Regions from separate parts of the Homo sapiens genome. Here region 1 is linked to region 2. Evidence: fine-mapped expression QTL. A gene starts in region 2. The other region holds a variant in brackets. All regions are shown on one strand. Distances are from middle to middle.

Region 1 (5,382 bases), 780 kb after region 2:
CAATATCTGTGGAAAAAACAATTGATAAAATCAACATCCATTCATGATGAAAGCTCTTAGCAAACCTAGGAATACAAGGGAACTTCCTTAGTCTGATAAAGAATATCTGCAATACACTTAGAGGAAACATCATGCTTAATGGTAAAATGATGAAATCTTTCCCTTTGAGATCTATAACAAGGATGCCTGATGTTATTACTTTTATTCAGCATTCTACAAGATATCCCAGTCTGTGTAGTAAGGAAAGAAAAATAAATAAAAGATAGAAAACTAAGAAAAATAGAAGAAAATCTGTCACTACTCATAGGTGATGCATTTGTATATGTAGAAAATTCAAAAGGATCTATAGATAAGATTTTAGTATTGATAAGAGAGTTTAGCAAGTTTGCTGGATACAAAATCAGTCCATAAAAATCAATTGCATTTCTTTATACCAGAAAAAGACATTTATTAACATGATATTTTAAAAGAAGTTGCCTTTTTTAATATAATGCCAAAATGCCAAGTTCCTAGGAATAAATATAACAAAAGTTCTCTATTAAGAAAATTTTAAACTTTATTGGGAGACACACACACACACACAAACACACAAAGTGAAAATACTGTGTTTGTTAACTAGAAGTCTCAATATTGTAAAGATGTCATTCTACTGAAATTGATTTATAGAATCAGTGCAATCTCAAAGTCCCAGCATTTTGGGGTGTGGTGGGAAAAGTTGACAAGCTAGTTTAAAATGAATATGGATAAAGAATAGCCAAGACATTCTTAAAGAAAAAGAACAAGGTGGGAGAACTTGCTCTTGTAGATACCAAGATGTATTATAAAGTTAGAATATTTAAGACAATGTGATATTAGTTTAAGGAGAGACAAATAGAGCAATGGAACATAATAGAAAACCCAGAGAAAGACCCACACCCACGTATCTATGAACCCGTGAAATATAAGAGTCAGCAATGCAAATCAGCAGGAAAAGAAGTCTTTGCAAAAAATATGCTGGAACAAATGAGTATTAATATGGAAACAGCTAAACCAGAGCCCTGCCTCATGCAATTCCAGGTCAATTAAAGACATAGATGTGAAAGAAAAGACTATAGAGTTTTTAAGATACTATACAAGAAAATATCATCATCTCAAGGTAGAGAAGGAATTCCTAAACAAAACAAAATCAGTACCTATTTTTTTAACTTTCATTTTAAATTCTGGGATACAAGTGCAGGTTTGTTACATAGGTAAACTTGTGTCATGGGGGTTTGTTGTACAGATTATGTCATCACCCAGGTATTAAGCCTAGTATTCATTAGTGCTTTTTGCTGATCCTCTCCCTCCTTTCACCCTCCACTCTCCGAAAGGCTGCAATGTGTTCCCCTCTTTGTGTCCATGTGTTATCATTTAGCTCCCACTTCTAAATAAGACCACGTGATATTTGGTTTTCTGTTCCTGTGTTAGCTTGCTAAGGATAATGGCCTCCAGCTCTAGCCATGTCCCTGCAAAAGACATGATCTTGTTCTTTTTTATGGCTGCATAGTATTCAATGGTGTATATGTACCACATATTCTTTATCCAGTCTCTCATTGATGGACATTTATGTTGATTCCTTGTCTTTGCTATTGTGAAAAATGCTGCAATGAACATACGCATGCATATGTCTTTATAATATGATTTATATTCCTTTGGGTATATATCCAGTAATGGGATTGCTGGGTCAAATGGTATTTCTGTCTTTAGGTCTTTGAGCAATTGCCACTCTGTCTTCCACAATGGCTGAACTAATTTACACTCCCACCTATAATGTATAAGCATTCCTTTTTCTCCACAACCTCACCAGCATCTGTGATTTTTTGACTTTCTAATAGTAGTCATTCTGACTGTTGTTAGATGGTATCTCATTGTGGTTTTTATTTGATTTGCATTTCTCTAATTATCAGTGATGCTGAGCTTTTTTTCATATGATTATTGGCTGCATGTATGCCTTCTTTTGAAAAGTTCATGTCCTTTGACCATTTTTTATGGGGTTTTTTTTTTCTTGTAAATTTGTTAAGTTCCTTATAAATGCTGGATATGAGACCTTTGTTGGCAAAAATTTTCTCCCATTCTGTAGGTTGTCTGTTGACTCTGCTGATAGTTTCTTTTGCTGTGCTGAAGCTAAGTTTAATTAGATCCCATTTGTCCATTTTTGCTTTTGTTGCAATTGCTTTTGGCATCTTCATCATGAAATCTTTGTCTGTGCCTATGTCCTGAATGGTATGGCCTAACATTGTCTCCCAGGGTTTTTATAGTTTGGGATTTTACATTTAAGTCTTTAATCCATCTTGAGGTAATTTTTGTATATGGTGTAAGAAAGGGGTCCAGTTTCAATCTTCTGCATGTGGCTAGCCACTTATCCCATCACCATACATTGAATAGGGAATGCTTTCCCCATTGCTTGTTTTTGTTGACTTTGTCAAAGATCAGATGGTTGTAGGCATGTGGTCTTATTTCTGGGTTCTTGATTCTGTTCCATTGGTCTACGTGTCTGTCCTAGTACCAGTGCCATACTATTTTGGTTACCATAGCCCTGGAGTATAGTTTGGAGTCAGGTAGTGTGATACCTCCAGCTTTGTTCTTTTTGCTTAGAATTGCCTTGGTTATTAAGACT[C/CT]TTTTTTTTTTTGTTCCATATAAATTTTAAATTTTTTTTTTCTAGTTCTGTGAAGAATGTCAACAGTAGTTTAATGGAAATAGTATTGAATCTATAGATTGCTTTAGGCAGTATGACCATTTTAATAAAATTGATTCTTCCTATTCATGAGTATGGAATTTTTTTTCATTTGTTTGTGTCATCTCTGATTTTTCAGCAGTGGTTTGTAGTTCTTGTCAAGATCTTTTACCTCCCTAGTTAGCTATGTTCCTAGGTAGTTTATTCTTTTTGTGGGAATTGTGAATGGGAGTTTGCTCATAATTTGGCTCTTGGCTTGAATGTTGTTGGTGAATAAAAATGCTAGTGATTTTTGCACATTGATTTTGTATCTTGAGACTTTGCTGAAGTTGCTTATCAGCTTAAGAAGCTTTGGGGCTGAGATGATGGGATTTTCTAGGTATAGGATCATGTCACCTCCAAACAGCAATAGTTTGACTTCCTCTCTTCCTATTTCAATGCACTTTATTTCTTTCTATTGCCTGATTGTCTTGGCCAGAACTTCCAATACTATGTTGAATAGGAGTGGTGAGAGAGGGCCTCCTTGTCTTGTGCCAGTTTTCAAGGGGAATGCTTCCAGATTTTGCCCATTCAGTATGATGTTGGCTGTGGGTTTGCCATAGATGGCTCTTATTATTTTGAGGTATGTTCCTTCGATACCTAGTTTATTGAGAGTTTTTAGCATGAATGGATGTTGAATTTTATATAAAGCATTTTCTGCATCTATTGAGACAATCATGTGGTTTTTATCTTTAGTTCTGTTTATGTGATGCATCAAATTTATTGATTTGTATATGCTGAACCAAACTTGCATCCCAGGGATAAAGCCTACTTGATCATGGTGGACTAGCTTTTTGATGTGCTGTTGGATTCTGTTTACCAGTATTTTTTTTGAGGATTTTTGTATTGATGTTCATCAAGGATACTGGCCTGAAATTTTCTTTTTTTTATTGTGTCTCTGCCAGGTTTTGGTAGCAGGATGATGCTGGCCTCATAGAATGAGTTAGCGGGGAGTCTCCATTTTGATTTTTTGGAATAGTTTCAGTAGGAACAGTACCATATATTCTTTGTACATCTGGTAGAATTTAACTGTGAATCTATCTGGTCCTGGGCTTTTTTTTGGTTGATCGGCTATTTATTACTGCCTCAATTTCAGAACTTGTATTGATCTGTTCAGGGATTCAATTTCTTCCTTGTTCAGTCTTGGGAGGGTGCATGTGTCCAGGAATTTATCCATTTCTTCTAGATTTTCTAGCTTATGTGCATAGAGGTGTTCATAATATTCTCGGATAGTTGTCTATATTTCTGTGGAGTCAGTGGTGATATCCTCTTTATCATTTCTGATTGTGTTTATTTGAATCTTCTCCATTTTCTTCCCTATTAGTCTATCTAGCAGTTTATCTATTTTATTAATTTTTTCCAAAAGCCAGCTCCTGGGTTCGTTGATCTTCTGAATGTTTTTTTTCATGTCTCTATCTCCTTCAGCTCAGCTCTGATTTGGGTTATTTCTTGTCTTCTGCTAGCTTTCAGATTTGTTTGCTCTTGGTTCTCTAACTCTTTTAATTGTGATGTTAGGTTATTAACTTTAGATCCTTCTAACTTTTTGATGAGGACATTTTTTCCTCTTAACAGTGCTTTAGCTGTGTCACAGAGATTCTGGTATGTGTCTTTGTTTCAAAGAACTTCTTGATTTCTGCCTTAATTTCATTATTTATCCAAAAGTCATTCAGGAGCAGGTTATTCCATTTCCATGTAATTATATGGTTTTGAGTGAATTTCTTAGTCTTGGTTTCTAATTTGATCGTGCTGTGGTCTGAGAGTCTGTTTGTTATTATTTCAGTTCTTTTGCATTTGCTGAGGAGTGTTTTACTTCCAATTATGTGATTGATTTTAGAGTAAGTGCCATGTGACAATGAGAAGAATGTATTTTCTACTGTTTCGGGGTGGAGAGTTGTGTAGATATCTATGAGGTCCACTTGATTCAGTCCCAAGTTCAGGTCCTAAATATCTTTGTTAATTTTCTGTCTTGAATGATCTGTCCAATATTGTCAGTGGGGTGTTAAAATCTCCCACTATTATTATGTGGGAGTCTATATTTCTTTGAAGATCTCTAAGAACTTGCTTTATGAATCTGAGTGCTCTTGTACTGGGTGCATATATGTACTTAGGCTAGTTATATCTTCCTGTTGAATCAAACCCTTTACCATTATGTAATGCCTTTCTTTATCCTCTTTGATCTTTGTTGGTTTAAAGTCTGTTTTGTCAGAAACTAGGACTGCAACCCCTGCTTTTTTGTTTTCCATTTGCTTGATAGGATTTTCCTCCATCCCTTTATTTTGAGCCTATGTGTGTCACTGCATGTGAGATGGGTCTCTTGAAGATGGTATACCAATGAGTCTTGGTTCTTTATCCAGCTTGCCACTCTGTGTCTTTTAATTAGGGAACTTAGCCCATTTACATTTAAGGTTGTATTGATATGTGTGGATTTGATATTGTCATCATGGTATTAGCTGGTTATTTTGCAGACTTGTTTATGTGGTTGCTTTATAGGGCCAGTGATCTGTGTACTTCAGTGTGTTTTTGTAGTGGCTGGCAGTGGTCTTTACTTTCCATATTTAGTGCTTCCTTCAGGGGCTCTTGTAAAGCAGGTCTGACAGTAATGACTTCCCTTGCTTGTCTGTAAAGTATTTTATTTCTCCTTCACTTATGAA
Region 2 (5,382 bases):
CAGATTAACATTGATGAAACACATTGTCAATTTTTTTATAAACAAAAGTCTATTTAATTTTATAAAAAATCAAATTGTAACATGTAATCTGTAGCTTTAAATTGTTTTAAATCATAAAGGATAAATTAAATGTGTAAAGAGACTGCTATGAATATAACATTGAGCAAATAATTATGCACACATACTCTACAAAAAGTATCATCCAGACCAGACACCGTGGCTTACACCTGTAATCCCAGCACTTTGTGAGGCGAGGAGGGCGGATTGTGTGAGCCTGGGAGTTTCAGACCAGCCTGGGCAACATAGTGAGACCCTGTCTACCAAAAACACAAAAATTAGCTAGGTGTAGTAGTGTGCGTTTGTAGTCCTAGCTCCTTGGGAGGCTGAGGTGGGAGGATCACTTGAGCCCGGAAGACAGAGGTTGCAGAGAGCCGAGATAGCACAGATTAGGCCACTGCACTCCAGCCTGGGTGACAAAGTGAGACCCTGTCTCAAAAAAAAAAAAAAAAAGTGTCATTCAACTGAATGGCATTGTGTCCTTAATTGACTTTTTTTTTTTTTTTAACTGATGAGAAGGGTGCATGAATAGCTATAGCAACTGAAATTAGATCATGGTATTCAATCACGTAATGTTTTGTTACAAAATATGAAAAATCTGAAAATAAATGTTTACATAATGAATACTACCCTTTATAGGTAAATGATAGAAAATTTACTACTTAAGGCATTCACACAAGGTTACTACATTTGTAATTCAAAGGGAGGCTTACAAGCACATATATCAAGTTCGGGAATTTTCTGGTTTTTTTTTTTTGTTCTAGGAAATTTTTAGAATTAATAGTCTTTATGTAACCTTCCTCTACTCTATCATGTTATTCTCATTCAGTGAAATAGGATTGTAGCGTATCATTGGTCAAAAAACTGCATTAAAAGTCAAGTAAATGGTCATCACTGTACTCACAGTAACTGGAAAATCAAAATGCTTATGGTATGATGTAGATAAAGATCTTATGGTTAACTGAAACAGAAACCAAGAGAAAATTTAAAATAAAAAAAATTGGTCATTTTTTGTTGCTTTAGTTTTTTTTAATCTCAGGGAATTTTTAAATTTTTCATTTATTCTAGGGACTTGGGATACATCAGTTGAACAAAACAGACAAAAATCCCAGCTTCTACTAGGGAAGGCAGACACTAAAAGCTAAACATATCAGATAAATACAGGCATACCTCAGTATCCGAGGGGGATTGGCTCTAGGACCACGACCAGTACCAAAATCCTCTCAGGTCTCTAATATAAAATGATATAGTATTTGCACATAACCCACATATATCCTCCTGTATAAATTATCTATAGATTACTTATAATACAATGTAAGTGCTATGTAAATAGCTGTTATATTGTATTGGTTTTTATTTGTATTTTTAAATTGTTGTGTTTTTTTTCCCAAATATTTTCCATCTGTGGTTGGTTGAATCCAGAAACGCAGAAGCCATGGATGCGGAGGGCTGACTCTGAATTATAAAGATTGTTACAAGGTGGGAAGTGTCATGGGATGAAAGGAAAAATAGTAAGGTAGGAAAGATGGAGAATTTTTTTTTTTTTTGGAACACGTGTCACTCTGTCCAGCCCAAGCTGGAGTGCAGTGGCCTGATGATGGCTCACTGTAACGTAACTCCTGGCCTCAGCCTCCAGAGTACCTGGAACTATAGGTACACGCCAACACACCAGGGTAATTTTTTTTTTTTTTTTTTGTAGAGACAGGGTCTCGCTATGTTGCCCACTCTGTTCTATTTTGAAGGTACAACCAACAAGCTTTCTTGACAGATTGAAAGTGAAAATGAGAGTATGAGAGGAGTTATGGATGATATAAAGTTTTTGGCCTGAGTAACTAGAAATCCTCGCCATCAACCTAGAATGGGGAAGACCATACATTACTTACAGGTTCGAGAGCTTACTTCAGTGGCATTACGCTATCCTTTTGAACTTACGATAAAGTTTTGTAGGCATTTTGGTGGACTGCTGGCTGCTAGATAGGGCACTCATGTTTCTGATTTCTGAGATATGTAAAATACACACCCAAAGGAATCACAGAAGTCTAGTACATGTGTAATTTTCACGCATTTCAAACCAGGTGGTTTAGCCAGCCTTAAACCAGTTAATGACTGATTGAACGATTCTGACTTTTACATGAAAAAGCAGTGGTCAGAGGATGGGCTCTCAACCGCTACTGAGAGACCCCTCATCCCACAACCGCTCAGCACCCACCCACCCACCCTCGCCTGTGCGCGTCCACCGCCCCACAACGTGCGCAGACGTCGCTCCTCCGCACGGATGTCCGCGGCCCGGGCCGGGGTGGGAAGGGGCTCCCCCACGCTCCCGCCCAGGTTTGGTCGCCATCTTTCGGAGCGTCCTTTCCCGCGAGTGCTGCAGTCCCGGATCTCAGGCGTCCGTTAGCTACAGAGGCCAATTCCTAACCCGCGCGGCTCGAATCCCGGGGGTCCCATCGCCTGCCGGCCGATTCGCCCATGCCGGAGGTACGGCGGGGGCGGGGCCTGGCGGGGGGCGGGGCCAGCACTGCGGTCGCTGCAGCTGCGCAACGGCGCCCGCCCCTCCGGCCGCTCTAGGGGCGCGCGCCGCCTCTCGCTCCGCCCAACCCGCGCGCGAGCCTGGGCGGGGAGGGGGAGCCAGGAAGCTGCGAGCGCGCTGGGGAGCGCAGCTGCAGGCGTTGGGGCGGCAGGAGCCGCGGAGCCGGCGCTGAGAGGGGCTGCGGCCGGAGCGGGCGGCTGAGACAAAGGCGACGGTGAGTGCAATGCCAGCCCCAGTCGCGCGTCGGCCGCCACGCCTCGCCCTCTCGGTCCCTTGGGCGGGGTCCCGAAGCCCCGAACCCTCGTCCCTGAGGGCTCTGGGGTGAGCGCGGCCCGGCCTTGCCAGCCGCGCGCTGCGGGCTGTGGGCTGAGCCTGCGTCTTCCATTTCAGGTTTGGGCGAGGTCCTCATGCCCTAGGACCCTGCCTTTGGTTTTTCTTCTGTTTCCTCTGAGGAATGGTTACACGCTCAGTTCAGAATTCACGGCAGGCGGACAGCTGAGGCAGCCAACTGACCGCCTGATGTAAAATGGAAAGGCAGACCCCCCCCCTCCCCCCAACTTTTCACGTCTGGAAGTCGGGAGGGTGGTGCGAGGGGCGGGCGGGGAGGGCCCGGGGTCTCTAGGTGAGGGTTTCGGGGAGCAAAGACACCTGGCTCCGGAGCTCCGACTCTTCGCCTGAGGCGCCCGACGCGTTCAGTCCGCGGGTCCTGCCGCGGTTCGCCCCGGGCCCCGGGCTTGAAAGCCCTTGGCTACCTCGTCGCGGGAGCTGAGCTACTCTTACAGGTTGTTTTACCCAGTGCTTGCAGCTTTAAGTTGCGATTTTAGGCAACGGGTGTGGTAGGTAGCGGCTCCTTGATGCCGCATTAACAGCTGAAAAAGCGCCCCGATCCGCTGACTTCACTATGTGTAAGAAACAACATTGGGGATTCCTCTTTAGCTTGCAATTATTTTAAATGATAAGCTTTTTTAGGGGAATTTTGGGGGGTGATGTGCAGTTTACAAAATCTAAATGTTTCGTTGAAGGGCCTGGCTTATAGTACGTGCTCAGTAAAGTATTTGTTGAATGAATGAATCTTGAAATATCAGACAAAGCTTATCTCACATCTAGTAAAATTTAGGCACATACTCCTTGATTATGATTAAGGAAAGAATGTCGGCAAACAGTATGTATTTTTGATATACGTTTTTTAGTTTTTGTCCCACATAACATACTGTTGATGAACAGTCCGTTCTTACTCTCAATATTATGAACATAGAAAATATATATCAAATTTGGATTTTCTCTTTTGGTTTGAGAGAAGTTGGTATACATTTTCTGTTTCTTAAAAACAGGCCTTATTTCTAATCTTTAAAAATAATGGAGAAGATAAAGAGGGAGTGGGATTGTATTTTGAAACCCAGCTTTCTGTTTCATTATGAATAAAGGAGTTTATGTGTTTTTGAGAAGGGACTGTGGTATGGTCTTGCTGCTTTTTGAGCAAGGGAGAACTCTAAATTTAGGGGGGGAAAAGCTAATGTTGCACTAATATAATAAAATGTCACCATTTACTCAACAGATATTCATTAAGCACCTGTTTATGGGCACAGGCAAAATCCGCAATTATCCTTTTCTTAAACTTGAATGCAAAGTTATTTCCTTATTATTGATGTCGCAAGTGGTGACTGTCTTAAACCCCTAGTGGCTATTTCAGTTGGGAAAGATGGCAGGTGAACTGCAGGAAGTGTAAATTCATAACAGCCTTTAAAGGTTAATAAGTAACTTTGTACAGCTAAAATTATTGGGTTAAGCTTTTATATTGTCAGTTTAATAGAATCTGTCTACATTTTAAAATGAAGGGAGGAAGACATTTAATAAGCTAGTGTTTTTATTATCTCCCTGGTCCCTATTAGGAGACTTTGGTACAGTGTATTGAAGGGTAATGTACTTCTGGTCCTGTTTTCTGTAAATAATCTTTGTAATAACATTTTCTGTTTTTAAAAATCCCCAGAGATAAACAGTAGATTCCTTTTCTATAAGAAATGTTTTAAAATAAAGCTTCATTTCAGGAATTTTATTTTGTCCTTGTGTTCACCACTTACAAATAAATGCATATAAACTTGATAGTGCTAAAAAGGGAAGGATTATTAGTAATAATTTGTGGTTCCATATGTGGACTTATCTTTTAGTATTGCAACTGTGATAAAACTACTAATTTAAAAGGATGAGATTTGTAGTTTTGCATTTATTCTGAACATAAGGTTGCGTTGCCTATTTTAATCTATTTATATATGTTTAAAAAGCAGTAATATTTTATTTATTTCAGGAATCCAGACTAATGTGATCCAAAGTCTGTCTTGATTATTATGAAATAATGTAGATATTAATTTTTTTATAGTTAGCTTTTTTGTATTTAAGTGGGCTGTTTTGACTGTTAATGCTTATAATACTTAATACATTGTTAAAGATAATGTTTACATTCAAATAGAAGTTTCAGATTTTGGACTTACCGGCTATTAGCTTTTTTTTTTCTTTTTTTTTTTTTTTTCGAGACGAAGTCTCGCTCTGTCACCCAGGCTAGAGTGCAGCGGTGTGATCTCGGCTTACTGCAACCTCCGCCTTTGGGGCTCGAGCTATTCTCATGCCTCAGCCTCCCATGTAGCTGGGATTACAGACATGCGCCACTATGCCCTATTTTTTGTATTTTCAAAAAGAGACGGGGTTTCTCTGTGTTGGCCAGGCTGGTCTCGAACTCCTGGTCTCAAGTGATCTGCCCGCCTCGGCCTCCCAAAGTGTGCTGTTAGCTTTTTATTGTTGTT

The links. PIP is the estimated chance that this variant, and not a neighbour inherited with it, causes the effect. A credible set is the group of variants that fine-mapping cannot tell apart.
Region 1: its variant is the best candidate, but not a certain one, in a credible set for the expression of CDC42SE2 in whole blood (INTERVAL, PIP 0.63).

The regions. Positions count from the first base shown.
Region 1 is chr5:132,036,554-132,041,935 of GRCh38, forward strand. No RefSeq gene overlaps it. Among named protein-coding and RNA genes, the nearest start is that of IL3, 21 kb to the right of the region's middle. The variant C/CT (reference allele first, on the strand shown) is at 2,636.
Region 2 is chr5:131,261,366-131,266,747 of GRCh38, forward strand. It overlaps CDC42SE2 (CDC42 small effector 2), which reads left to right and starts at 2,688. Exons shown (of 5, transcript NM_001375635.1): 1 at 2,688-2,801. RefSeq lists enhancers at 1,972-2,021, 3,150-3,967 and silencers at 2,142-2,211, 2,222-2,271, 2,302-2,951.